Linked DNA regions of Homo sapiens. The protein of the gene in region 1 interacts with the protein of each later gene in a biochemical or structural test. Each region holds a gene or a part of one and is shown on either strand. Other genes may lie near its edges. The genes, in order: ARHGAP21, CRHR1, PLEKHA2, SLC2A1, SHROOM3, JAG1 and SLC22A11.

Region 1 (4,080 bases):
CACCCAATATCAAATAGAAAACTCAGCAGCTAGTCACCAGGGAAAAGTAAATAAAGTCTTTAACTTCCCTGTTTTTTTATTTTTATTTTTTACAATAATAAACAGTTTCTTCTGATCTGTCTACTTACCCCGAAACAGATGAATAGTCAGAAATATCAAATTTGGGTTCTCAATCTATTCTTTTATTCACAAATCTACATAGTGGAAATTCTTGCACATTAAATAGATAACTAGAAGAGGACTTATAAAACATTTCCATCACATCAAGTTTCTTTTTTTCTTTTTTTTTTTTTTTAAGTGATGGGGGTCTCCCTATTTGGTCCAGGCTGGTCTCAAACTCCTGGGCTCAAGCAATCCTCCCGACTCTACCTCCCAAAGTACTGGGATGACAGGCATTAGCCACCACGTCCAGCCCACATCAAGTTTCTCAAACCTATAGTACAATATATCCATTTGTCTTTTGGATTATTTGAGAAGCACAAAATGCCATCATCCAGATTAGATTGTGAAATAATTTGCACAATACCCAATTTTATAAGAACATGGCAACTTAAACCATAAAACTATTTTAGTGAAAGCAATCCAAAATTGAGTTTTTTGCATTTAGATATCTTTCTACTTCAAACCAGGGAAGATATGGAAGGCTTACAATATTTTAACACATTTAATTACTTACAGTCAATTAAAATTAGATAAAATAGTAGGACAATCTTTAAGTCCAATAACCTTTCGTTTTAGTAATCTAATCACATCAACTAGACAGAAAAACAAGTGCCTACCATATGGTCTTTCTGTAACAGAAAATAGCTGCATTGAATAACAGCATCTGTGCATCTTATCAACGCTAGCATTGCCCATACTTAAATCAGCATATTGTTAACTATAATAAGAAGACAGGACCCTTCACAAAGCAAAGAACAAAAGAAACTGAATATTACCTTTGTGCTAGATTACTTGACCTGGTAGTAACTAAAGAAATGAAGAACATCAAGGCACAATGAACTTCATAAAACGCTTAACCTGGAAGAAATGAATGGGAAGGAACACTAACAATTTACGGAGAAATTCTTTAGATCTGGGTACTCACTTTGCTGATGGCTCTTATCTAGTGATAGGCCCCACTCAATACATTAAAATCCAGGCTTCTGCCGAAATGCCACTTAATGATCCCTGCTGCTGCTACTGCCATCATTCTCAATTCTAACAGGTTTTAGCTTTAACCCTAACTTGCAGCATAAAACTTTTGGCATGGAACAGTATTCTGACACTTAAATTCAGGTGTATGAAGAAACACAAAATTAAAATTAAATAATAGAGTTATACCATACTGTAACTAGTCTAGAATGAATCCTATGCCTCCAATGAAGAAACTTGCTTTTTAAAAATTGTTTTTTGGCCGGGCACGGTGGTTCACGCCTGTAATCCTAGCACTTTGGGAGGCCACAGTAGGCAGATCACAAGGTCAGGAGATCGAGACCATCCTAACACGGTGAAACCCCGTCTCTACTAAAAATACAAAAAATTAGCCAGGCATGGTGGCGGGCGCCTGTAGTCCCAGCTACTCGGGAGGCTGAGGCAGGAGAAAGGCATGAGCCCGCGAGGCAGAGCTTTCAGTGAGCCAAGATCACGCCACTGCACTCCAGCCTGGGCGACAGAGTGAGAGTCCATCTCAAAAAAAAAAAGAAAAGAAAAGAAAAGAAAAAGAAAAAATTGTTTTTTAAGTGTTGCTTTGAGCAGTGTGTATGCTTTTTAGTATTGTTTTAAGCAGTGTAGGTTTGCCACAAACCAAATTTTCACAAGACTGAATACATATTACCTATTTTTAAAGTCTATACATAGTGTTCTTTTATTGTCATTTTGGTAATAAAAAAGAGAAAATGTAAAAATAATATAATCCTGATATTCTCATCATTCAGAATAAACAACTGTTAACATTTCATCACGGTCAATGTTTGTGATCTTTTTTTAACTGGTTATGAAATATTTATGACATGAAAAAATAAAAATACATAATAAGGAACATCCATATACTAGCCATTCGTTTTAAGAAATAAAACATCATCCATACAGATTATCTTTTTATAGCTTCTCTTATCGACCAGTCTGATTGCCCTTTCACTTGTCTGTTAATTATCATGATCTCATCTCTTAGTGGAAATTGTTTCATACATTTGTACTACACATTGTCTTGGTTACTGTTACTTGGTTACCAGCTTCCCAAAGGTAAAAAAGGTGCAAAGAAAAAAGGCACCAAAAATTTTAACAGCAGTTCTAACGGAAATGAAATAGAATTTAAGGTGGGCAGGAGGTCTAAGGAAGAACATATTTCATACTGTACATATTTTATATAAACTAAAATAAGTATTCAGCTGGGCGCAGTGGCTCACACCTGTAATTCCAGCACTTTGGGAGGATGAGGTGGGTGGATCACTTTGAGATCAGGAGTTCGAGACCAGCCTGGGCAACATGGCAAAACCCCATCTCTACTAAACATACAAAAATTAACCAGGCATGCTGGCACACGCCTGTAATCCCAGCTACTCAGGAGGCTGAGGCAGGAGAATCACTTGAGCCTGGGAGGCGGAGGTTGCTGTGAGCGCAGATTGCACCACTGCACTCAAGCCTGCGTGACAATGCAAGGCTCTGTCTCAAAAAGAAATAAAATAAATAAGAATTCACATACTACATGTCCAAATGCAAACTCAGTAACATTTTGGAGTTTTGCTAAGTCTTTATTCATTCCAAAAACATATTTATTGACAACCTATTATGTGCTAGGCACTCTTCTAGGCACAAGAAACACAATGTGAACAAAACAGACAAACTGCACTCTCAACACCTGCGTTCTAGATATATTACCTGTCTCAAATAAACAAACAAAATCAAATGCATAAGCATGCCGGGTGGAGACTAAGTGATAGGGAGATAAAGCAAGGAAGGAAGGCAGAGCATGGCACAGGGAGCAGGGGAGGGGCATTCAACAAAGGGAGTGGTTGGCAAAGCTTCACTCGGAAGGTGACCTCTAAGCAAAAGCCCGAAGGAGCCAAGGAAGCAAGCTGTGCAGAGACTGGGGGAAGTGTTCTAAGGGGAGGGTTCAGTGAGTGGGAAGGCTCTGGGGACTCCCACGTTTGTGTACATGCAGAAAAGCAAGAGACCAGAATGGCTAGCACAGAGTGAGGCGGGAAGAGGCACAGGAGGTGCGCTCAGGGAGGGGGAAGGACCAATTATACAGGGCTTTGCAGGTCACTGCAAGAACTTTGGCCTTCAATCTTCAGAGAAATGAGAAGCCATTTGAGGAATTTGAGCAAAGGAATGACACAACTTGATTTATAAATTGTCTGTCCTGATTGCTGTGTGGAGAACAGGCTTTAGGCTGGCAAGGACTGAAGTGGAGAAATCAGTCAACCAGATCCACATGTCATATATGAGAAAAAAGAGAGACATCAAAGATCACTCCAAGATGCCTGGCCTGGAAGGATGGGATTGCTATTGCTTGAGATGAGGAAGACTGGAAGGAGCATACTTGGGAAGGTGGGCCAGGGGAATGGAGGTAGAGTCAGGATTGTGGTTTTAGATATGCCTATTTACTATTCAAATGGAGATTCTAGGCAGTCAGGTCAGTTGGATATAGGAATCTGATTCTGCGAGACAGAGGAGCAGGTCAGCAATAGAGATATACACATGTACACATAAAGAAATATAAGTGAGTGTGTGTGTGTCAATTATCTGCATATACTTGATATTTAAAACCATGAAACAGTATTGGGAGAAGAAATGAGGATTAACTGAGCTTTGAGGTGTAGAAAGGTTTAGCAAATCAGGATGTCGAGGAAACCTCAAAGAGACAGAAGGAGGTGACAACGAGGAAGGAAGATAATCAAGAGAGTATAATGTCCGGGAATCTAAATGAACACTGAATAAAATGTAAAGCCTTTCCTGCATATTCATTTATTCATTCAAAAAATATCACCTGACACTTACTATGTGTCAGTCCCTGTGGAAACAAACATGGTCCCTGCTCTTATAGGGACTGCAATCCAAGGGGGATATAGATAAACTTGTAACTGGTATTCCTGAAAG
Region 2 (4,080 bases), on another chromosome or scaffold:
GCGACGGGATTCTTGGGACTGCTTAGGTCAGTCTCTCTCTTCCACAATCAGAATCCCTGGCCCTCGGACAGCCTGGGGTGTCCCCCCTTCTGCCCTTTGACCCCCGTCTTCCTCAGCACCAAGGGAGAAAGCGTCGGGTGGGAAAGGAGACAGGGTGGGAGAGACCGAGGGCAGTAGCAGCTCCAGGATAGATATATTTGTGCCTCTGCCAAATATCACCCTTCAAAGATTATTCATTGCAGCAGCATTTGTAATAACTAAAGACTGAGAATAAAGACTGGTTTAAATAAGTTATGGTACATTTTGTGATATTATGCAAATGCAAAAAGAATGAAGATGCTCTTTATGTACTGATATGGAACCATCTCTAAGATAGATGATTATATGAAAAAAGCAAGGTGTAGACAGTGTGTATAACATGCAACATTCAGGTAAAAACAAAAAAGAATACGTATACAAAATTACTCGTGTATGCGGAGAATGTCTCTGGAAGGACACTTGTGAAATTGGCAAAATGGTTGCCTCTGGGAGGGAATCCAGTGGCTGGGGACGGGGTGGGAGGGGACATTGTATTCCCATTTGTACCTTCTGAGTTCTGTGTAAGCAATATCTGCTCAAAAACATTTAACATTTTAAAAGGCTTTCCAAGGGCTTTTTCAAACTGCATTGCTACCTCCATCCCGTCCCTGGTTTCCATACAGCCCTGTGGCTGGAACTGGATGTATCTCTCAGGCATGTGTTGTGGAAAAGGGTGGGACTCCTGTGACCGAGTCTGGTCTCCCTTTGCACCCCCAGGACAGTCCCATGCCCAGTGCAAGCGGCTGCCCGATGAGCACAGGGAGAAGGAAGGAAGGAACAAGGACCCATCTCATCACCATCAGAGCCTGCCCAGTGCCCCATTGGTCCAGCCTGCCCTCGAGGGCGCCTGCTCATGGGCCTTTTCCAAGTTGACAGCTCCAGCTCCCCAGTCAGCTTCACTAGAGCAGGGCCTTGACATTAGCCTCTGGCTCCCTGACTCCAAGTAGCAGGCACAAAACTCTGCTGGGGACCCTGGACTCCCCTCCATATGGGCAGCCTTGTTCGGCTCAGCCTCACCTCCTCATTGAGGATCTCCTGGCACTCGGAGTAATTCACGCGGGCGGCCCAGCTGCCATTGGCCAGGCACTCCCGGTAGCCATTGTCTGGAAAAGGAAGAGAGAGGCAGTGATGGCGGGGCAGCCCCGGCCCCTGCCTGACCATCCTGGCCCAGATGGATGCGTAGATGGATCTGTAGATGGCCAGTACAGGCACCTGCTGGCTGGGGGTTGTGTAGTGAAGCTGGGGAGAGGGGCTTCCTTACCACCCCCATCTTCCTGCCTCTTTCTGCCCATTGGCCTCCAGCAGGGGTTGGTGGCTCCCCCGGCTCTGCCCACTCAAGCTGGCATGATCATGCCCACAGGACTGGCCCGTGGACAGGCTTGACCAGCTCCCTGGGCTGTTCCTTTGCAAGTCATTATGTGGTGGCAGATGACAGGTAGGTGCTCTTCTGAGAAATCTCCTTTTCAGGGGTCTTGCAAGACAGCAAAAAAATGGTGAGACCTCATGAGTCAATTTTCACGAGGCTGGGCATGACACGGTGGAAGGGTATGCGGTGACAGCTCGCGTGGCAGGTGGCATGACAGGGCTTCTTGTGGTAGAGCCATCTCACAGAGGCTGCCGTGGGAGGTCCTCACTGGCTGTGCTGCACATGGGGGCTCAGAGTTCATGGGGCAGATCTTGGGGAAGGTCCCATGGTGGCACTTCCCCATAGCGGGCCTGTGTTGGAAGGTCGTGGTCTGTGGGTGGGGGGAACATCCATGATGGAGGTCTCTTGGACAGAAAATGACAGGTGACAGGCGTGTGTGGGGAGATGTCATCACTCAGGTCTGTCACAGCTGCTCCTAGCCTGGCCCATGTCACTCAAGGAGGAAGGCAGGAGAGTGGCCCAGGGACATATGGAGGTTTGTGCAGCCACCGGCCTGGACTGTGGCCCAGAACCTGTCACCTTCTAAGGAGATGGGGAGGGGCCCTGTGAGCTGAATTGATGCCTGGCTTTAGGGCCCTGGGATGGGCAGAGCTGCCCAACGTGTTCCCCTTACCCTCCTTCATGCCTACCAGGCTTGAGCTCCAGGGTCCTAAAACCTAGCTGGGAAGGGACAGCATGAGTTCTAAATTCCATCTCATCTTCTCTGCTGGCAGAGGTTGCCCCACCCCACCCTGTACCCGGCTCTGGCATCAGTAGCTCTAAACATGCTTCCTTGAGTTAATTCTGGCTCTGACTTCAGGCAGAACTGCCTGGCAGAGAAATGAAGCCCTGAGTATCTCACCTGGAGCCTCCCTCACTGTAGGCCTTCCTGTGGCTCCCAGTGGCCCTTGGGGCTGGAACAGGGCTGGGAAAGCTGCTGGAGTCCCAGTCCTTGAGTCTGGAGCCCCATGGGGCAGAACCCTGTGAGGATCTAGAGGCTGGGGCCCTGGGACCAGCTGAGCTGCTGCCGTGCTGCATGACTGACCTCTGGGGACCCCTTCTCATTTATAAAAGGAGGGGCTGGACTGGCTGATCCCCAAGGGACCATCCAGCCTGGGAGCTGCCTCTGCTGGCAGCATCAGGACAAGAAGGTGATGATAGGGAGCCCGTCCTGGCCTCCAGGGCTGAAAAGTAGATGTGGCCTCTCCTCTCTCGCACTACTCCCCTCCATTCCCCTCCCTGGTCCCCCTGCTGAGGAGCTGCTCAGCTACAGCTGGCCAGTGGGAGATCCGGCTAAATGGATTTTTAAAGCTCTTCCATGTCAGTGGACCGCAGTCTCAGGGAGCCTCAGGCCCTTGGGCAGAGTTGGTGAAGAGGCTGCTGATTCTCTCCAATTGCCAAATGAGGGATGAGTTACCGGAGGGCTGAGGCTCACCCAGTGGGTTTTCATGGAGGTCTGAGGGGAGGGTGAGACGAGGAACCAGGAGAACCCAGTGTCTCTGCCATGGCTGGGAAGTCCCGGGACCAGAGGCTGCTCTGAAATACCTCCAGGGATAGGGGCTTTGGGACAGAGATCCGGCTGGAAGGGGCCCGGGGGTGGTGGGATGGGGTGGGGTGGTTCTTGAGTTAAGAGGCAGCATGGAGTAGTGCTAAGAGCGTGGCCCCTGGACCCAGACAGCCTAGCATCAAATCCTGGCACTACCTTCCACTAGCTGTGTGACCTTGGGCAAATCCCGAAACCTGTCAGCTTCCTCCTCTGTAAGTGAGAGCATCTGAATAGCAGCTCCTACATCAAGAGTTGAATATTTTTAGTTAACATGCACAAGGTGCTTGGAACTGTACCTGGGATGTGATGTTGGCTGTTATTTTTATTATTATTGTCTTGGAGCTGTATTTATATAACCTTACGTGAGACTCAGAGCGTGTCCCTTGTCCCCATCAAAGGGTACCGGTGGATATTGTGGGAGGAGCCCCTTTGCTCAACACCCTTGCCCCCCTTGACATGTGGGGGAGAGTCAGGAGTCCCATCAGAGGCTGGGTCACCCAGAGGGAGCAGGCTTTGATGGGGAGAAAGGAGGTGATCCGAAAGAAAGCAGGCCCAACAAGCAGGGAGCCGTTGCCAGGGAGGATGCGACCTCCTTGTCTTTAATTGCTGAGCTGAGCAGTCCTCCCAAAGAATCACGGGAAAATAGATATTTTTGGAAATGCTTCCCATCCCTTTGAAGATCAGATGCAGCAGGAGGGAGGGCATTAGGGAGAAGGCCTAGAAGTCCTGGCAGCAACTCATCAGTAAATGGATTAATTAGTGCTTAATGATGAGGTGCAGCTCTGGGTACCCACTTGTGACTGACTGCACGGGCGTGCTCCACCTCATCTGGCGCTGGAGGCACCTGGAAAGGGGTCTTCCAGCCCTGCCCTCACAGACTGACCCCATGTCGAGAGGCCATCACCCCAGCTCCTTTCCTGGGATCACAGAGGGAAGTGCGGGGGAGCCTAGAGAGCACCACACTCAATCCTCCCACCCATTCTGCAGGTGTAGAAACTGAGGCCCACAGAAGGTCTGTGCCAAGGGCTACTTAACCAGCTGCAGATGCAGC
Region 3 (4,080 bases), on another chromosome or scaffold:
GACATCAGGGTCAAAAGGAGGAGAAAAGGAATAAGAAGGTCAGGGAAGAGGCACTAGTACAGTGATCTGACCAGAAGCACTGAGGTGAGTGACCTAGAGGCGTGGTCTCTCCTCTGAGCCTGTGTTCTGCTAGGGATTGAGCATCTAATCCTAACACCTGAGAAGCTTCGGAGCCCCACTCTTTGTTTCTATACCCTTTCTTTTTGCCCACCAGAAACTATTACGTAGGCCTATCTGCTTAGGAGCCAGAGTAAGGTATGGGAAGAGGGCAAGTGTGCCCAGGGCGGTCTCCTCCCTGTGTTAGCTTGGATGCAGTGAGTCAGCCACAAGGTGTTAGGCTCCTGTGCCTGGCTCTTGGAAGAAGATGACTCTTGCATAGAGTCTCTGAAGGGTAGTAAAGGGAGATTTAAGAGGACAAATGGAGGTTTGGATTAGAAGAGAAAAAGCAGACACAATTACCCAGACTTGACCAGACATTCATGGGTCTTCAGAACATCCTTAAGAAATATGGTGCGCAGTGGTTCTCGGTCCTGGTGGAAAGAACAGAAAGACAGGTAAGTGAGGCTGTCTGTGTCATATCACGACCCAGACCAGCTGACCAATACCCCTTTCTCAGAGATGGTTGGCTAAAATCAGGTTGACAAATAATCTGGTCTCAAAATAATCAGCAAGAGAAAAAAAAATCTGGCTGGGCAGAGTGGCTCATGCCTGTAATACCAGGACTTTGGAAGGCCAAGGCTGGAGGATTGCTTGAGGCCAGGAGTTCAAGACCAGCCTGGGCAACATAGTGAAATCCTGTCTCTACAAAAAATCCACCACTGTGCTCCAGCCTGGGTGACAGGTGACAGAGAAAGACCCTGTCTCCAAAAACAAGAAAAAAGACAAAAAAATATAAGAAGAAGATGTTGTGTAGCTATGACTCTGACCACACAGCAGCTCACTGCAGAGAGGACACTTTAGTGTCACTGTAAAGATGTGTGCACAGAATGGAGATAAGACAGAGGCGCCTTTGAAGTCTTTGTGTGCCCACATCTCCACTCATGCACGCTCTCCTGTGGGTGTGCACCTATGCACCTCTTAGTTTCCATGACCTCTCAGAAGGGCAGCAAAGCTACTACAAACCTGCTCACACTTGAAGTAGCAGATGGTAAAGTCATCAAGTGCAAAGAAGCGACGTTTCCAGCTCTTCCGCTGTAATAAAAAAATAAAAGGCAGACCATTAGCGAGAGGTGCCCAGCATTGTGGAGGGTGTACTCATGCTAAGCTCCCAAGGACCCAGCCCCATGGAAGTCCGGCTCCCACATTCAGCAGGGGCAAGGGCTTCTTCATATCAGGGGCAACACCTCTGACAGGTGGGAGCCAAAGGTCAGTCCCAAAATCTCACCCTCAAAGGTGGAGGCTCCATGGAGGACTGAGGCACCTCCTGTCAATCCCCTCTCACCTCTGCTATGTCTACAGCCACTGGCTCTGAGGAGTCACCAGAACCCCAATTCAGCCCCTGTGCTGACACTCACCACATTCCCTTGCTTCACGCAGTAACCACTCTTAATGAGGGGAGGCCCAGTGGAAGCACGGCAGCCTGACGTGGGGATGTAACTCTGAGACCTTCGAAGGATGGTGTGGGACCCGGGCTCACTCCCTTCCTGCCCATCCCCACCGTTCTGCAAGGAAACAGTGTCAGTATCAGCGCCTCCCTCCCTCTATGCAGCCACAGCCCCACCTACCTCCCTCTGCCTGAATCTCTGGCCTCTTTGCCCTAAGTCAAAGAAGAAATAAATGGTGGGCACAGTGGCTCACGCCTGTAATCCCAACACTTTGGGAGGCCAAGGCAGGAGGATCGCTTGAGCCCAGGAGTTCTAGACCAGACTGGACAACACAGTGAGACCCAGTCTCTACAAAAAAATTAAAAATTGTTTTAAAATTTTTGTTTAATTTTGATTTTAAAATTTAAAAATTAAAAAAAAGAATTACCCAGGCGTGTAGTCCCAGCTACTCAGGAAGCAGAGGTTGGAGGATGGCTTCAGCCCAGGAGTCTGACACTGAAGTGAGCCATGATTGCACCACTGCACTTCAGTCTGGGCAACACAGCGAGACCTTGTCTCTAAAAAAATTAAATAACAACATGGCAAAACCCCATCTCCAACAAAAAATACAAAAAAATTTAGCCAGGCGTGGTGGCACATGCCTGTGGTCCCAGATGAGGTGGGAGGATCACTTGAGCCTAGGAAGGCTGAGGCAGGAGGATTGCATGAGCCTAGGAGGCAGACGCTGCAATAAGCCGTGATTATGTGTATATGCACTTCAGGCTGGGTGACAGAGGGACACCCCATCTCAAAAAAAAAAAAAAAAAAAAAAAACTTAAATAAATATAAATAATTAAAACAGGAAAATAAACCTTTCCTTTCTCTGTCATGCACTCTACTGGGTACTTTCACAGAACCAGCATCAGGGAGGTTGGGCCGACCCAGGAGAAAGGGAAGGATAGGGAATGTGAACCAGCAGGGACACCAGGCTGGTTTCCAGCCTTGTTTGCCATGCTCTGTCCCATTTCCTATGGTTTCACAAACCCTCATCTTCTGTGTCTCCCGTGTTCGGCACAGAACTGCACAGGCCACATGGCTTCAAGATGCAGCAGCCTCCACTTCCGCACTGCCGTCACTAACACCCATGAATGGGGATGTAACATGACCTGTACTTTCCTGATGGCTCCACTGGCACCAGCTGCCCCCCACTCCCACCCTCCTTTTCCCCAGTACAGTGCTCCGAGCACATCATGGGCACACCATGGACACTTCCACACCCCCACTCCCCCCGCAGCCCCAGTCAGGCCCCTCACCTGGCTGATGGGTGTGTGGACCACCACCCCTCCAATGATCTCCGTCTTGTAGGCCACCTGTGGCTTCTTCTCCAGGGCTGGAGGAGCTGCTAAGCTCTTGAGAACTTCAGTGGTCATGGGTAGGCCCCCACCTTTGGGAACCTGGGGTGAGCGGCAGCAACAATCAATGGGGAACAGAACATTTAGGAAACATGGGGAGCCCAAAACAGAATGGGGCTGCCGTGAGAAAAGCTCATGTGCCAAATTACAGTCAGACTTGCGTGTCCTCCCCAAGCCTTCCACAGTCCAAATCTGAATATGAGCATCTCAACCAGCAACGCCCTCCCCCTACACAGATACAAACTGACTCCAGGAATTTCTTGAGCGCCTACTTATGAGCCAGCCCTTCCCTGGCTAGAAACCAAAGATAAAGTGTCAAGCGAAACACACGTGGGTCCCCACCTTCACGGCACTTACATGCTAGTAGGGGGAATGACAAAAAAAAACGTAAAACAAACAGAGTAATTACAAATGGTGGTGAGTGGCACAAAGAAGATCAAGAGAGCTGAGGCAGCGCACAGCAGGGGACCTGCTGGAAACAGAGTGGGCAGGGAGGTCTCTAGAGGAGAAGGCAGGGAGACACTCAAACGGCAACCTGGAGGGTAAGCAGGAGATGGGGGCCAGGTCCGGGGCCTCACACCTGTAACCCCAGCACTTTGGGAGGCCAAGGCAGGAGGGTCACTTGAGCCCAGGAGTTCAAGACCAGCCTGGGGAACATAGTGAGATCCCATCTCTACTAAAAATGAAAAAAAAAATTAGCCAGGTGTGGTAGCACACAGCTGCTCAACAGGCCAAGGTAGGAGAATCTCTTGAGCCCAGGAATTGGAGGCTGAAGTGAGCTATAATCACACCACTGTACTCCAGGCTAGGTGACAGAGACCCTGTCTCGAAAAAAATACAAAATAAAAAACTAAATAAAAGGAACCAGGAACATGAAGCTGGGAGAAGGCATTCTGGGCAGATTGAACAGGTAAAAATGCATGCATGCCTTTGTAGAGACAGAACAAGGGGTCCATGAAGTCTGGAGCCAGAAGATGTGTGGTATAACCCTTCACCTCTCACGAACCACCTGAGAGACCTTTGGCAACCATCAAACCTTTCTAGGCCTAAACCGTCTCATGCATAAAATGAAAAGTGGAATAATATTTATCATAACCATCGTTGTGGTTATCAAATGATAGAGTATATTAAATGCTTTAGAAACA
Region 4 (4,080 bases), on another chromosome or scaffold:
TTATATCACATTCTGTGGCTGGTGGGCTCAAAGGCTACTTTGTGGAGAGAATGAGACCATGCAGTGAAAATGAGGATCAGGATCAAGCCCACAAATAGCCCGGGCTTCTAGGCAGCACTGTGTCCCCCACAGTGCTGATGACATAGCTGGCTGCCGGGCCACTCAGGCCCACACTCAGCCTAGCGCTTGGCTGGAGGAGATTCCCGTAGAGGCTGATGCAGTCGATCAGCGAGTTGGGGATAAGGACTTCCATCACCAGGTTGTAGATGGTGATGATGCCAGCCATGACCGCTGGGACACTGGACTTCAGGATCAGCTCCAGCCGCATAAGGGCCAGGGCCACGAGGCAGTGCTGCTCTAGGCTGTGCCACAGACAGCACACAGGGCTGTGGGATGGAGGCAAGGCGAGCCCAGAGCAGAATCTGTTTACCTGGGGCCAGAACCCTCTGGGAATAGCTTCTGCACAGCTGTGAGGGCCACACCCAAGTTATCACACGCAGCAGGGAGCTGAAGGCAGCCCCCACCTAGGGGCAGGAAGTCCTCAAGAAGAACTGCCACAGCTGGGTGATCAAGGAGCCCAGTGTAGCTGTTTGTTTCTTTCCTTGAACTGGGCCCTCCAGCCCAAGAGAGTCCACCTCTTCCTCCAGCAGAGGTGCTTATGGCTAGCTGGCCTGTCTGGGCTCCCACTGTGCTATGAAACCCAATCTGTGCTGCTCAGCACTCCCCAAGCCTGCTGCACAGACCACATGCTCCCCTGGAGCCTCAGTGCCGCTGACCCAGACAGCTAGCTCTCATCCCCAGTACAGCTGAGGACACAAGCTCCAACAAGAAGTGTGGCTGGCCTAAGGTCCAATGGTAGAGCTGTTTCTGATGGAGCCGTTTCCTCCCCACTCCCAAATGCCAGGGCAGGGGGAGATAAACTGGGCTAGGAGACATAGGCAGACTTCCTGTCCAGCAGAGGCCTCAGTAGCCAAAGGCTCCATCAGCTGAGGCCTGGCAAGAGCTCTCTCCCATTCCAGGGTGCAGAAGCCTCAGGGAGGCAAGTCAGTGTGGTCACAAAGAGAGGAGATGCTGTCTTCTTTCTGCCCAGGTTCAAGGCCTGGGAGCCCTGCTCAGTTACTGCAAAACCCTAATGTTTATGCATCAGCTACTGCCAGGCCTGGTGGCTGGAAGACAGAGCCTCAGGCTCCAGTCCACCCCTCCCGTGGAGAGAGGTAACAATTGGAGGCTTGTTAGGGTAGCCAGGGCTGGGCCTGCAGGCCTGGACACAGCCTCTCTGAGCCCATGAATCTGGTCAGGAGGCCTCCCAGCCTCCGCCATCATGGGGACGTCGGTTACCAGACTGCAGACTGAGTGAGCGGCTTTATCACCTTTATGCCCAGGAGTGAGGTGGGGGAAGGGGTGAGGTTGCAGGCCCCAAGCCAACACTGCACACTTTCCTCTTTGTTCCAGGCCTCCCCAGCTTTGCCAGTCTTGGGGAAGCAGGGAGCTGGATGGCTGTACCCTTGGTACTTGAGCAGAGCTCTGGGCCGACACCCCGTGACCAGGAGGCACTGGGCAAAGCTGAGCTCCTTGAAGTCACAAGCTGATTACGGGGGATTTGAGGCTGGCCCAGCTCCGGGGCAAATAGGGTCGAATCCCTGGATGGCTCGGTACTAGACAAGGATCATCTTGGGGCTGTTTACATCATTTGTACACCCAGACTGGCCTTACAAAGGGTCTTTCCACTTAAAATAGCCACTTCTCTAATTTAGGGCACGGGGCCAGTCTCACCACATCCACTGGGGGTAGCCAAGTCTCTATTTACTGAGAAGGAAACCAAGGCTCCAAGGAAAGCCACTTCTTCAAGGTCAGAGTTTAGTGGGAACATCTAGTGTTTTGTTTCCATTCACAGTAGAGTTTCAGTTGTCAAGTTACGTCTAATCCAACTTTCAGGCTCCTATGGCATGGCAAGTCCTGTGTCTGGGGATTCCTGCTCATTTGGGGTGGGTGGAGGATGGCACAGACAGGCATGTGGAGAAGAAAGCATCTTTAAAAAAAAAACACAGCTAGGCCAGGCGCGGTGGCTCACACCTGTAATCCCAGCACTTTGGGAGGCCGAGGTGGGCGGATCACCTGAGGTCTGGAGTTCGAGACCAGCTTGACCAACATGAAGAAACCCCATCTCTACTAAAAAAAAATACAAAAAAATTAGCCGGGCATGGTGGCACATGCCTGTAATCCCAGCTACTCGGGAGGCTGAGGCAGGAGAACCACTAGAACCTGGGAGGCGAAGGTTGTGGTGAGCTGAGATTGTGTCATGGCACTCCAGCCTGGGCAACAAGAGCGAAACTCCGTCTCAAAAATCAAAACAAAACACAGCTCCATAGAACGCCTCAAATCTTTTGTGATAGCCTTATCTCGGACAAATCTCTTCCCTTCTCTGGACTCAATTTCCCCATTTGTCAAATGGAGGGCTGGGCCATGGCTGGAAGGCCCCTCCTGCTCTGGGTTCCTTCCACCCTCTAATGTCATCCTGGAAAGGCTGGCAGCATGTCTTGGGGTGGGAGGCTCAGTGTGTGATCTTGGCAAAGTCATTTTTTATTGGACCATGAGGTCACTGTAACTTGTATCACAGGGCAGTTGTGAGGACCCTTGGAGTTAATGGACATGAATGTCCCTTTCAAACTATCCCAAGGGTGACCCAAATTCAGAAAGGTAGGCAGGAAGCCTAAGGCAAAAAAGCAAAGCAAAGAAGCCCAAAGCAGCGCAGGGCACTCACATGAGCTGACCCTCCCTGGCCTGGCACTCTCACCCATGTGCCATGCCTACTCACTTCCCAACAAGCCCCTACTAGGAAGAATGGGTTAGTGGGAGCTTTAATGATTTACCTGACTTAATACCCATGGGCCAGCATCCTGACTCCCCAAAAGCTCATACTGCCAGAATGCCAGCTTTTGGATAAAGGCCAAGGCCCAGGTACAAGTCACCCACAGCCCAGGTAAGGCATCATGGGAGTCCAAGGAAGCAAGAAATATTTATGGAGCATCTATGGGGACAGAGACGTACATTCTTTTCTGAATTCCTAGACACTGTAATGATGAAAACTGGGCAACTAAGCTAAGCTGGGATTCAAAACCACATATGCAAACATCTATGTTTGGCCGGGTGCGGTAGCTCACGCCTGTAATCCCAACACTTTGGGAGGCTGAAGTGGGCGGATCACCTGAGCTCAAGAGTTCGAGACCAGCCTGGGCAACATGGCGAAACCCTGTCTCTACCAAAAATACAAAAATTTAGCTGGGCACGGTGACGCATGTCTGTGGTTCCAGCTACTCAAGAGGCTGAGGTGACAGAATCGCTTGAGCCTGGGAGGTAGAGGTTGCAGTAAGCCAAGATACTTGCCTGGGTGACAGAGTGAGACCTCGTCTCAAAAAAAGACAAAAAACAAAAAACTATGCTGTCTGCACCACAAAGGGGCTGAGAAAGCCTGCAGATTTCTGATTTTTCCTTTTCTGGAAGGTAGAGACTGGCCAGAAAAGTGATGAGTGATGGGCATAGGCAAGGCTAGTTACAAGTTCTTCACGAAGGGTGGGGTGAGACATCTGGGGCAGGGCTCACCCTTGCGTGCTGCCCAGGAGAGATCGTGGGCGAACCCCTGGCTTGTAGGCAAGGTGATTCCATCTGTCCCCTACTTCCTATTCAGCTAAGCTCATTACTGTGAGTTACAGAGGAGCACAATGGAACACGGGGAAGTTAGTTAAGTCAGTTCCCATTTCCTAGGAGACAAAGAGGAACATAGCAGAACCAAGGCTTTGGAGCCAGACACACCTGGTTTTCAGATCTTGTGTGAAAGGCAAGCGATATGACCTCCCCAGGCCTCTAACATCATGCACAAAAAGGCTGTGCTTGCAGGTCAAATCAGCAGTCTCCAAAGGGAAGGGCTTTATTCCAGAATGTATATGGAATGATCTACACAAGATTTGGAGGGGAAAATGACTATAACTGCTGTCTTGTATCTATCTGTCTTTTGAAATTTCTATTTTATGAAGGCATATCATCTGTTAGTATCAAACTGCATGTGCATGAATTTAAAAATAC
Region 5 (4,080 bases), on another chromosome or scaffold:
TACTGTGCTGAATACTGTAGGCAGTTGCAATACAATGGTATGTATTTTTGTATCTAAACATGGAGAAGATACAGTAAAAGTATGGTATTATAATCTTATGGGACCACTGTCACATATGTGGTCCATCCTTGACCATTATATGATGCATGACTGAAATAGTAATAAATGTTAAAATGAAATAAATTCATTGGATGATATTTTCAGATATAGAACATTTAACTCTTGCCTCTGTTTCCCCATTCCCAGCCTCTTTTTATTCAGGAGATGGCATGGTATAGTGACTTAAAGACTCTGCAGTCAGACAGTATGGGGTGAAAACCTCACTCTACTACCTTGGGCAAATTTTGTACCCTCTTGGTGACTTGGTTCCTTCTTCTGTAACTTAGAGATAATAATAGTATTTACCTCATTGCACAGATGTGAGGAATAATTTTATTTTATTTTATTTTTTGAGACAGAGTCTTGCTCTGTTGCCCAGGCTGGAGGGAAGTGGCGCTATCTCAGCTCACTGCAACCTCTGCCTCGTGAGTTCAAGCGATTCTCGTGCCTCAGTCTCCCAAGTAGCTGGGACTACAGATGCACACCACCATGCCTAGCTAATTTTTGTATTTTTAGTAGAGATGGGTTTTTGCCATGTTGGCCAGGCTGATCTCGAACTCCTGGCCTCAAGCAATCTAGCCACCTCGGCCTCCCAAGGTGCTGGGATTACAGGTGTGCACCACTGCACCCAGCCAAGACTAATTTTATACTTATAAAACACAGTACAATGACTGGCACACAGCAAAAATTTGATTATTGTTAGCTATTTGTATCTTCACATTTTGTGGAAAGTCAATTCTATTTTGTATAAGCTTAAATGTGTGCTTGTAGAAAGGTGCTAAAAAAGACTTATGAGTTGCATTCCACAGAATCAAGCCTATATCCAATACTGTGGTTCCATGCATTGAGCAATTTCCTCAGCAATTCAGTAATGTTTGTCACACCATCTCATAGTGATTATGTTACACATCAGACATGAAGTTCCCTGAAAATACTGTGAGAACCAGAGAAGTCTCTAACTCAGCATCCGGGGGAAATATCCCCACCAGTAATCTTATTTCTCCAAGGGTTTCTCTTTATAGTCTCTACTATATTTTAAATCTATGCAATGAACAGATATACATTTCTGTCTCTAAGGCAGAAATGTTGGCTATCTTTCTATAGCTTTGCAGGTCCTACCCACTTTTAACAGGTTAACTTTTCCAAGGTCTCACAGAAAGAAAGTGGAAACAGGCAAGAGTCTGATGTGCACTTAAGCTCCATCACTAATATCTATTTGTTCTGCAATGAAGAGGAATTAAAGGAGAGGAAAATAGAAGGTTGCATGTTTCAGAGAGGATTTCAAGCTGGCTGAGGAGAGGCCAGACCTGCCAAATACATGAGAAGGTCTCAGGCTACAAGTAGTTCAAAATGGTAGCCTCCTGCAGTCATTATTTCAGGCCAGAGATGGATCGATTGTCACATACAGAGGAACTGATTTCCATGATGACTTTGTTTTTGGAGGCAGAAAGGCCTCACTAATGAGAATTTTGAAAAAGAGCTAAATCCTTGTCAAAAACTTGTAAAATCCTGCCCTGTCAGCATCTGACTGGTAAGAGCAAGCAACATTTGTTGGAGATAGCATCAACTAAGCCAGCAGCAGAAACACACTCCACATTGTGGTTTTAACTCAGGCAGACAGTCTCTACAAGTTCACTTAACTTGTCAGAATTCTCTAAAGCAAGGATGAGAAAAATGATTGATTAACAAACCTTCCCAAAAGCTTACTGATAATGTTCTTGAAATTTATTCAATAGGAAAAATATGTATATAATAACCACAATAGTTATGTGGTGAGAGTAACTTTGTTTTATTTTTTACTCATCATAACTACAAATAAGGCAGATGATGAAGAGGATGCAAGGAGCAGACCGCCTTGCCATGAGATGCTTCTCCAGTCAGCTAAGGTCTGGCTGCTGTGCAGGAGACCAGGAGAGGGAGGAAGCTCAAGAATGCAGTCCTGGCACAGTGACAATATAAGAGACTATGCATTGTTCAGAAATTTCAGTATTTGTTGGAGCAAAGCAGTACAAAAGAAGTATTTCATTTGGAAATATTTCCCTCTCTGCCTGCATATTCCCCAAATTAAATAACATCTAAATATGGCATTCCCTTTATGAAAAGGGTGCCCAAGTACTGTTTTGTATTCACTTGTCTTTCTAAAAAGTTTTCCAAATAATACAAAGTATTTAATTGGGATTTGGAGGAATCTCTTCACTTCTCCCAACGCCTATGTTTTAGCTTTATTTCTTAATCAACCAGGCTTAAGAAATATTTGGGGGGAAAGATAAAATAACATTCATAGCCATCCAACCAACCTCTAAGACAAAATAACAATATCTAATGGGGAATAAACAATAATGATTTGGTTTTCACCTAAGCATTTTTATTTTCTTTGAAACACGGGGAGAGAAAGGAAGGTGTCTAGACTGCTATGCAGTTAAGTTGCTAAAATCCATCAAGCTAAATGAAATTGTGTGTTACATATATGGATTTTAAATGTGTGTTAGTGGTAGGATAGGGAGTGGGAATTAGCTCTGTTCATTCTGAAGGAAGGAAAAGGCTACTGAAGGCTTATGGGAAGTTGCCTCTATATTTGTCGGGGATTTATACTGGGAGAAAATATTTCTGTACAATTCTAAACAGAAAACATCTGGGAGGGGACGGTATTTTCTCTCAGAAGGAAACAGGCAAGAGTCTGATGTGCACTTAAGCTCCATCACTAGTATCTATTGTTCTGCAATGAAGAGGAATTAAAGGAGAAGAAAATAGAAGGTTGCATGTTTCAGAGAGGATTTCAAGCTGGCTGAGGAAGAGGCCAGACCTGCCAAATATATGAGAAGGTCTCAGGCTACAAGTAGTTCAAAATGGTAGCCTCCTGCAGTCATTATTTCAGGCCAGAGATGGATCAATCGTCACATACAGAGGAACTGATTTCCATGATGACTTTGTTTTTGGAGGCAGAAAGGCCTCCCTAATGAGAATTTTGAAAAAGAGCTAAATCCTTGTCAAAAACTTGTAAAATCCTGCCCTATAAGCATCTGACTGGTAAGAGCAAGTAGCATTTGTTGCTGTATGCGTGTGATAGAGTGCAGCAAACTTCTCAGCCAGAACTGCTGAATCTTTCTTTGTCTGAACTGGTTTCTTCCCATCAATGCATCCCCTCTCCCCTAATCTCTTGTCATCATGCCCATCTTTTACATCCTGGCCCAAAATCCCATTTCCCTTCAGGAGAAGCACTTTCAGATCACCTCAGAATTAATCACTTTCCTTTCCATAGCATATTATTGATCACTATTCCCAAAGCATTCACTAGTCATATTAGATTTATACATATAAGGTCGTATTCCTTGCTTAACTGTGAACTCCAGAAAGGCATGAGCCTTATTTTTTCCTTTTGTGTATCCTTTGATGCTGTAACACAGCATTTTTCATACAACACATGCTCTACAGATGCTTGCTGAATGGCTGACTTCTCTGAAAGGGAAAACAGCAGAATCTGAGAGGGGAGAGTGGAGCGGAGTTCTTCCTCCCCTGTGCTAACAGGTATGTGATTCCTATTATTGTCTTTGGTGGGAAGGGAAGCATGAGGCAGGCCCCTGGTCTACAGTGGAAGTGAAGCCTGAGGATAGGCTAAGAATTAGGGAAATTAACAGGCTCCTAGGAGTCAGAATGCTCAGCTTCTATTCCCAGCACTGCTTAAAATTTTCAGGGGAAAGTACTTTATAATCCTTGCAGCATTTGGTGCCTTTATTAGAAAATCCTTTTATGTGAGATTTTGAGTTTCTTATTTTCTCTCCTCACCAGGATAATGCACAGAAAGAGCTGAGGTGGGAGTCCGAGAGACAGGGGTCTGACATGTATAATATACTCTGCTGCACAGGATTATCATGAGGGTTAAATGAAATAATAAATGTAGATTACACTTAGCTCAGGACCTGCCACACACTTAGCTGAGGGCCAGGAATTCAATAACCAATGACTATCAATGTCAATCATTCT
Region 6 (4,080 bases), on another chromosome or scaffold:
CTCTAAACCCACTTCTATAGGGAAGGAGAAGGAAATGACAACACTTGGAACCAACTCCATAATTTGTGTCCCATTACTGTGTGCTAATTTATAGTGATTTCTTGCTTTGCCAAGAAAAGAAAAAAAAAAGAAAGCAGTCTGCTTAATTTATCTAGTATTGGCGGAGTTGAGGTTCTTTTATATAAGCACCTTGATTAATCATACTCTTTTGGGGCCAAATAGTGCCTCTGATCCCCAAGCAAAAACAAAAACAAATACAACAACTTTCATCTGGGGTGGGAGAGGGGGCAGCGTCTCAAACCACTCTCCCTTGAATTTTCAAGCCCTCTGAAACTTTAATTGCCTTCTCAAGAGCCAAGCTTTAACAAGGGTGGGGGAAGGCAGGGAGAAACATCAACTAGCCTCCCGGTGGAGCGTGGAGGGTGGAGGGTGGAGGGTGGGGTGCGGGTGGGATGGGCAACATGTTTCCAGAACGGGACCTGGGAAAAGCCACGATCAGCGCCAACCCCCTAAGCTGCTCAGCTGTAACTCTGGAAAACAACCCCCGCCCCCTCTAGCTCCCCAGAAGGAAAGGCTTTCGGTTTCCCAAGAGCGGGAGGCAGGCTAGCAAATCCTTGTCATGGGAAAATTATAGGGATCTAGCTAATAGCTAATCACCCACGGCTGAGAGTCAACTTAACCCCTGAGAATACTGACTAACCACTTCCTAACTTCTGAAACCAAGCTATGCACACCCACATGCAAAGAAATCACTAGAATGTGTGGTTTAAAGTTAGACACTGGATTCTGGTTTATGTAAAATGGAATGTCAACGTGACAAGTGACTAAAGGAGTAAGATAAGAACAAAATTACAATCTAAATAATTTCTCAAAAGCGGACACCCACGTTAGTGGGAGGTAAGGGTGTAGCCATTCTGTCAAGGCTGATATTCTTAGCCTGAAAGATAGTAAGAGGGAACTGATTACGAAATGGCAATATTCTCACCGTCTTCCCTTATTCTCTTCCAAATTCAGGATCACTAGCCCTCTTCAAGTTGCCTCATAAAGGCAAGGAGAGGCAGCTGAGGACCCAACCTCACCTAATTAAAGAGACCTCAATCCCCAAGCATAAAAAAGCAACCACAAGAGGCCATGGATGACTTCAAAAGAAAACAAATAAAAATACTGACCCTAAAAGAGGCACCAACCAAGTTATCCCAGTTTAATAATATATGATTAAGATTCTCATGAGAAATTGAAGTGACTTTCCTCAGATGATGATTCATAATTAAGTTTGATATTATTGGCAGGCTTGCAATAAGCAAGCATGTATACCCAGGGAAAGGGACTCAGTCTACTTGGGAACAACAAAAACCAGTAAATTTTCTCATGTGGGGGTGAAAAAAAAAATAACCTGTGTAATACATAATCCAAAAGACAACTTGCAGGTAACTTGCCATTCAACTATTTCTGCAGCAGGACACAACCTGAACTTCCTCAGCGTGAAGGTTCTGTTTTGACTTTCTTTCAAGGTAGGGAGGGAAAACTGGGCTGGGAGACTATGCAAATGATGTGTGGGAAAGTCGCACCTTAAGTAAATAAGGCCATCAGTGCGTGTCTGGGCAGGGAGAGGGAGGTGGGACTTCGAAAGAGAAAGGGCTAAATTCTGGAAACAAAGCCTGTTGTTCTGGCTGGGAGGGCCCTCCCCTGTATAGCTGTATGTGTGTTCTGATGACAGCAGCACAAATCACAGTCGGCCTCCGCTGATATCCATCTGAGCAGGCAGCAGGCTTGGAATCACTAATAGCACTGCCATTGGGACTTTCTCCAGAACACCCTTAATTAGGAAGAGTTAAGGTAGGTGGATTCCTGCTCCGCATTGGACAGCAATGCTGTTAAATACTACAGTCCATCGCCACCAATGGGAGACAGCAGGAGAAGCCCCTCAGCCTTCCAGGAAATAAACTATCTTTCTGAAGTGTAGGAAGAGACAATTCGGGACAACCAGTTCTTAATTTAGTTCCATGTTCCCCCTTGCATGGGAGGGGAACAGACGGAGCGGTGGAATCATAAAGGTAAAGGCCACAGATAGTTCTCTTTAAAGGAGTAGCCTCAAAATTTACTAAGCAGCAAAGTCATGTGGCCAGCTTGTCAAATGCAGACTCCTGGGCCAAACCAAGGACTAGGATTCTATGGATGTGGGACGGAGCCCACGAACCTGCATTTTAACAGCTCCCTTGTTAATTCTGGAAGTTACACTTTGAGTACTGAGGTCTGGGGGCAGTGATTGCTGATGGTTCCATCAGCAGCATCGCTTGGGAGCTTGTTAGAAATGCAGAAACCTGGGCTCAGCCCAGACCTATAGAATCAGGACCTGCGTTTTAATAAGAGCCCCAAATAACATTAGTTTGGGACATACTGGTTTAGACTATGTTTCATAAGATTCCCTTTACTCATGTCAGAGTAGCTTTGGGGGCAAAAGTGACAGGCTCAAAGGATCCATTTAGCGTTACTCCTTAAAATTTGGGAGGAGGGAGAGCAAAGCATTAAGACTGCCAAAAACACCACAGACACCAACAATATTTCCCAAAATAAGCCTTTTCCAAACGGGCGTAATATAAATTTCAAGAAGTTCCAAAACCCGCCATCGTGAAGTGGTCAGGGCAGGCCTCCCTTTGGCTTCCGCATTGTTCCTGGACCATAAAGGAACAGACTTCAAAGGACTGCAGCAAAAGTCTACATTCATCAGGCTCAACTGACAAGATTCCAGGGCAGCCATTAACCTCTCAGCACCAACCCAGCTCCCGCCTGCAAAGGGGCCAGGAGATTGGACTAATCCCATTCTAAAGAATGCTGGACTTTCGCCTATTGATGGGAAAAGTCGGGGAGGGGGCTGGGAGAAGAAAGCCTTGGTGGAAGAGGAGAGAGACGCAAAGAAACAAGCCCACATCCCTCCATCTAGCCCATCAGCACTATAAGGGAAGATTATAAAAATGTGTTATCAATTTACAGAACAGTTAATACATGAAGTCACTGGCTATGCCCAAAGAGTTTCTTTTTATTCCAAGAGAGAAGTGGTGTGTGCATTCCACCAGACAGCTGGTATAATTTAATAAGCTTCGGATGTGTCTATCTGAATTTTTTTTTTAAAAAAGCTTTCTTGTTCTCCAAGGAAAAAAGAGGCATAGTCACAATAAAGTCAGTTCCTCTCTTACATAAAGGAAAATTAAAAGAAATCTCACAAAAGACCAGTTGATTTACCTGCAGTCACCTGGGAGTTTGCAAGACCCATGCTTAGGACTGCAGCCTTGTCGGCAAATAGCTGTAAAAAACAGAGAAGGGCGTGTCAGCACACTGCCTGTTCCTTGCATCGCCCCGGTCATGAGAATGGCCCATTGCATTAAAGTCTGCAAATTCCACGATTTTAACAGGTCTCATATCAAGTCCCTTGTAAGGAGAGGAAGATGGGAGGGGCCCAAATAACAAAACCAGCTTTAAACTTCAAGGCCTTGTTAGCAGATTCTGAAAACATGATATTGTTTGGGGACAAAATGCAGACAAGTTGACGAGGGAAGGGGGACCTTCGTCCAGCCTCTCTAAACCACAGCTACCCTGGCTCCTTGAGCAGAGCTTGGTCAGTTTCCATTCTGCCCACACCCTTTTCATTAGAAGAAAAAAAGGTATAGATAATCCTTCCCCATCCCACCAGGACACATTCAGATGAGCCTCAGCCTTTAAAAAAAAAAAAAAAAAAAAAAACAACCCATACCAAATGCCTGGTTTGAAAATTCCATGGGACTAACAGAGCCAGCCAGGCTGGACTCATTGGGCAGGCTAATCTGGTGGCCAGATCTGGTGAGACTTTTATAAAGTATCCTTGCAGAGCAATTCTCTACTTCGTTTAAAAAAAAGAAAAAAGTAACTTCTAAAAAATGTCAGTTTCTAAGACCAGGCAACAGTGGCCCATGCCTATAATCCCAACACTTTGGGAGATTGAGGCAGAAGGATAGCTTGAGGCCAGGAGTTCGAGACCAGCCTCAACAACATAGCAAGACTATGTCTACACAAAATAAAAAAGCTGGGTGTGGTGGCATGTGCCTA
Region 7 (4,080 bases), on another chromosome or scaffold:
TAGCATAAAAGAAACGTTTTCCTAAACTTCAGTTTTATTTCAAGATAAAAGTCCCAATCAAACCAGGTCCTTAGGTTTTTTTTTTTTTCCTTTGACGGAATCTTGCCCTGTCGCCCAGGCTGGAGTGCAGTAGCACAATCTCAGCTCAGTGCAGCCTCTATCTCCTGGGCTCCAGTGATCCTCCTGCCTCATTTTTTGATTTTTAGTAGCGATGAGAGGGTCTTACTATGTTACCCAGGCTGGTCTTGAACTCCTGGGCTCAAGCGATCCTCCTGCCTCAGCCTCCCAAAGTGAGGGATTACAGGCTTGAGCCACCGCGCCTGACTGGTCCTTGCTTTTTAATATGCTCTTTTGGATGTCACCGGAACTGAATTTGTTTTAAGGGCCTTTTCCTGGGCCCAGATGACCTTGGGTCCCGGGGAGGGCCAGGGTCTGGTCGCGCGGGCCCTGGCAGTGACAGTGCCGGTAAGCCAAGTGTTAGCTCAGCCCGGTTCCAATGCAGGCTCTATTATTTTGGGCTTGTTCCTTACCCCTCTGGGATCCTCTTTCCCCATCAGTGAAGTGGGGTTGCATGGAGGGGTCAGCGAATGCAGGTTCACCCTCTAGGAGCATGGCCATGGTCTCTAGGAAAGTGGTAAGTCTCTAACGATGACACACAGTGGTACTCCTCGGCCGTGGCTGGTCCCCTGGCTCTAGGGACCCTGGCTCTGCCTCTGTCTTGGGACCTCCCTGGGACCCTGGGACCCCCAGCCTAGAGCTGCCTTTTCCTCTGGCTTCCTGCAGATGGCAGCCTCCAGATCCCACCTGTGCATAGTCCCTCTCTGCTGCCTGCCAGGACTCCTGCCTGCTGGGGCTGTCTGCGTCCTGTCCCAGACAGAAATGCACCCCCTTGAGGCCTGCGGGTGCTGTTTCCCCTGGACGCTCTGCCTCCTGCCTGTCCCAGCTCTGCCTCCTGCCTGTCCCAGCCCTGCCTTGGGGAGGGACACCAGGACGGCGTACTTCACCACCAGCATGGCGCAGCTCCTCCAGCGGAGCACGGGCACGCAGAACAGGTCCAGCACCGACCGCGGCTCCTTTGCAGAGGCCACCTCCTCCTTCACGCTGGACATCAGCACCTTCCGGGGAGAATGGGGGCACCGTGAATGGTAGGGCAATGGCCCTGCCCCACCCCCTGTGCCAGAGAACAGTGTCCAAGTGGCCAGAGTGACGGGGAGCCTGTCCTGGGCCTCGGCCTCTGGAAGCTGGATCCCTAGGGGAAGGGGAGGGGATGGGGCAGAAAAGGTTCTCTCCAGGCCCTGGCTCTTCTGCAGGTTTGACTCAGCCCTGGTCCTCTCAGCTCTAGCTTGCCTCCTTCTGGAAGCCTTCCCTTATCCTCCGACCCCATCTTCACTCTAATCTCTGGCAGCGCCTGTTTCCTGAAAGCAGCTACCTTCAAATAAACACATTCTGTTTCCCCAGACACATCGAGAACCCCCATGAGGTGGGTGCGTGCTACATGCAGGTGGAGGTGGTGGGTGATGGAGGTGACGGTGTGGGTGCTGTTGATAATGATGGTGCTGTTACCGATGGTGACGATGGTGGTGAAGGTGGTGGAGATGTTTTGCAGAGATGGTGGCTGTGGGGTTAGTGATGGTATTGGTGGTGCTGGTGGTGATGGAGTGATGGCAGTGAAGGTGATGGTGGGTGTGGACAGTGGTGGTGCTGTTGGTGATGGTATCGGGATTGGTGGTGGTGGTGGTGGTGTCTGTGTGGAGGTGGTGATGGAGGTGTTGGTGGTGTCTGTGGAGATGCTGGTGGTGGTGCTGGTGGAGGTGGTGCTGGAGTGGGTGGTGCTGTTGGAGGCCACACGGATGATCCCTCAGTGCACGTCCTGTCCCAGGTCAAGTCTCGCAGACAGCAGCATCTCACCTCTATGGTCAGGTTCTTGGCCTCCTTGTGGCCATTTATCCTGGCCACCTTTCTGAGCTCCTGAAGTGCTTGGTCTGGTTTGCCCTTAATAATCAGCCACCGGGCGGATTCTGGCAGCCACCTGTAAGGAGGCAGGTGTGTAGCTGGGAGTGCACGCTGGGCTCTCCCCCGGGGCGGGGTGGAAAGGGGCAGTGGGCACGGACCCTCCAGCTGAGATGAGTGATGAGGAAGCACATGCTTCTGTGCCGCTGCTGCCCAGCCAGGAGCCTGGCAGTCCCCAGCGGTTTCAGAATAAAGCTGAGTCCCAATGCCTGGCCGCCCACCTTCCCAAGCGAGCCACCTCCATCTGGCTCGCCTGGCTGCCCGGGGCCTGCCCACCTGAGCCCTGCACACAGCCAGGGCACAGGTGGCCTGGGCATGGGTGTCCCTAGAGTTGGCTGCTTCACCAGTGATTCTGGGGCTATTTCTAGGATAGAAAGGTCACTTGGTGCTGGGTTTTTTTGTTTTTTTTTTGAGATGGAGTCTCACTCTGTCACCCAGGCTGGAGTGTAGTGGTGCGATCTTGGCTCACTGCAACCTCCACCTCCCAGGTTCAAGTGATTCTCCTGCCTCAGCCTCCTGAGTAGCAGGGTCTACAGGTGTGCACCACCATGGCTAATTTTTTTGTATTTTTAGTAGAGATGGGGTTTCACCATGTTAGCCAGGATGGTCTTGATCTTCTGACCTTGTGATCCACCTGCCTCAGCCTCCAAAGTGCTGGGATTACAGGCTTGAGCCACTGTGCCCGGCCTTTTTTTTTTTTTTTTTTTTTTTTTTTTAGCACATTTAAAATATCCCCAGGCAGAACCAGGTGATTTTATAAAACCAGTCTATTTCTCCCCAACCTCAGGGGCAGGTGGGCCAGGAGAAACACTTTCCTGGTGGAAGGCACAGGATCTGCCCAACCCACCGGCTCTCAGCCCTGTTTGCAGGGAAGCTAAGAAGGACTTCTGGAGGCAGTCTGACGTAGTGGTGAAGAGTTAGCCTGCCTAGGTTCAAATCCTGCCTCTGGCATTCACCGGCTGTGTGTGACCTTGGGTGAGTGACCTAACCTTTCTAGGTCTCGGTCCTTCATTTGAAAATGGTGGTAATCGCATCATCTTACTTATTAGAAGGTGTGTTAATACGCACCTAGTGTTATAAACTGCACCTGGTACACACCTGATCAGCGTGGCGGGGATGGCCTAATTATTGTAATTATGGGATGGCCTTCCTCTTCACTTATTGATCTGTGTATGAAACGTAAGCTCCACGGGGCCACTGGTTTTTGCCTGTTTTGTTCACTTGTGTGTCCCCAGCACCTAAGACCCTCTGCACCTGTCTGTGTCTCCTTCCTCAGTGCCAACCCAAGGAGGGATTTCCAGACCTTAGGGATTTTTGCGGCCCCTAAAATTGTAGTGACAACAATCTATTTTCATATCCAATGTTGGTCCGCACTGTATGTGAAGGAGTGAAGCTGGTGGGTGGGGGCTGGTGCAAGTATTGAGGAAGGACGATGCTCACAGCCTCAGCCCAGGGGACAGCGGCAGTGGGGCCTTGGGGACCGGGAGAGCGGCCGCTTCCACTGTGGCCGAAGTTCAGCCCAGTGCCCCTGGATCTTCCAGTTTTTCCAAAGAAGGTAAAAAATACTGTTTTTGTTTGTTTTTGAAAATCTTCTGATTTTTAAATGTTAGCAACTAGTTACAAATGTATTTTTTAAATCACCATTTGAGCCAATGCTGTGCCAGCCCATCTTGGCCTGTCTGGGCTGGATGGGAGCCACGGACCTCGGGCTGCAACACTTAGCCCAGGACTGCCAATCACCAATGTCCCTCCCTAGCGAGGGTGCCGCTCATGCCATGGCCCTTCTGTGGCACTCCAGGTCTCTGGACCTACTGCCAGCCAGAGAGGTGAAAGTGAAGAGTCCCCCTCCCACCCTGGGTCTCCTAAGGAAAAGGTCCCACATCATACTGACCAGGATATCAGGGAGATGGCAAAGAAGGGCACTGATGCTGCCAGCTGGAGAGTCCTCCAGTCCCGCAGGGCAAAGGCCAGGCCGCCCAGCGCCGCCTGGCCTGCGCTGAAGGCACATCCCACCACCGTCATGGTGACCGCCCTCCTGCTGGTCGTGGTCCACTCCACCACTGAAGGATG

What was found.
Region 2: the proteins of ARHGAP21 (region 1) and CRHR1 interact in a test that uses a peptide from one of them, tested with the Homo sapiens proteins (one large-scale study listed by IntAct).
Region 3: the proteins of ARHGAP21 (region 1) and PLEKHA2 interact in a test that uses a peptide from one of them, tested with the Homo sapiens proteins (one large-scale study listed by IntAct).
Region 4: the proteins of ARHGAP21 (region 1) and SLC2A1 interact in a test that uses a peptide from one of them, tested with the Homo sapiens proteins (one large-scale study listed by IntAct).
Region 5: the proteins of ARHGAP21 (region 1) and SHROOM3 interact in a test that uses a peptide from one of them, tested with the Homo sapiens proteins (one large-scale study listed by IntAct).
Region 6: the proteins of ARHGAP21 (region 1) and JAG1 interact in a test that uses a peptide from one of them, tested with the Homo sapiens proteins (one large-scale study listed by IntAct).
Region 7: the proteins of ARHGAP21 (region 1) and SLC22A11 interact in a test that uses a peptide from one of them, tested with the Homo sapiens proteins (one large-scale study listed by IntAct).

What each region holds. Positions count from the first base shown.
Region 1 is NC_000010.11:24,713,359-24,717,438, forward strand, and holds part of ARHGAP21 (rho GTPase-activating protein 21), read right to left. Parts: intron 1-4,080. UniProt on the Homo sapiens protein: Functions as a GTPase-activating protein (GAP) for RHOA and CDC42. Downstream partner of ARF1 which may control Golgi apparatus structure and function. Also required for CTNNA1 recruitment to adherens junctions.
Region 2 is NC_000017.11:45,818,456-45,822,535, reverse strand, and holds part of CRHR1 (corticotropin-releasing factor receptor 1 isoform 2 precursor), read right to left. Parts: intron 1,182-4,080; coding exon 1,096-1,181; intron 1-1,095.
Region 3 is NC_000008.11:38,949,747-38,953,826, reverse strand, and holds part of PLEKHA2 (pleckstrin homology domain-containing family A member 2), read right to left. Parts: intron 2,978-4,080; coding exon 2,837-2,977; intron 1,662-2,836; coding exon 1,515-1,661; intron 1,192-1,514; coding exon 1,123-1,191; intron 531-1,122; coding exon 460-530; intron 1-459. UniProt on the Homo sapiens protein: Binds specifically to phosphatidylinositol 3,4-diphosphate (PtdIns3,4P2), but not to other phosphoinositides. May recruit other proteins to the plasma membrane.
Region 4 is NC_000001.11:42,952,186-42,956,265, forward strand, and holds part of SLC2A1 (solute carrier family 2, facilitated glucose transporter member 1), read right to left. Parts: intron 1-4,080. UniProt on the Homo sapiens protein: Facilitative glucose transporter, which is responsible for constitutive or basal glucose uptake. Has a very broad substrate specificity; can transport a wide range of aldoses including both pentoses and hexoses.
Region 5 is NC_000004.12:76,742,352-76,746,431, reverse strand, and holds part of SHROOM3 (protein Shroom3), read right to left. Parts: intron 3,625-4,080; exon of another isoform or gene 3,532-3,624; intron 1-3,531. UniProt on the Homo sapiens protein: Controls cell shape changes in the neuroepithelium during neural tube closure. Induces apical constriction in epithelial cells by promoting the apical accumulation of F-actin and myosin II, and probably by bundling stress fibers.
Region 6 is NC_000020.11:10,653,158-10,657,237, forward strand, and holds part of JAG1 (protein jagged-1 precursor), read right to left. Parts: intron 3,302-4,080; coding exon 3,241-3,301; intron 1-3,240. UniProt on the Homo sapiens protein: Ligand for multiple Notch receptors and involved in the mediation of Notch signaling. May be involved in cell-fate decisions during hematopoiesis. Seems to be involved in early and late stages of mammalian cardiovascular development.
Region 7 is NC_000011.10:64,562,257-64,566,336, reverse strand, and holds part of SLC22A11 (solute carrier family 22 member 11), read right to left. Parts: intron 4,071-4,080; coding exon 3,902-4,070; intron 2,030-3,901; coding exon 1,909-2,029; intron 1,116-1,908; coding exon 1,000-1,115; intron 1-999. UniProt on the Homo sapiens protein: Antiporter that mediates the transport of conjugated steroids and other specific organic anions at the basal membrane of syncytiotrophoblast and at the apical membrane of proximal tubule epithelial cells, in exchange for anionic compounds.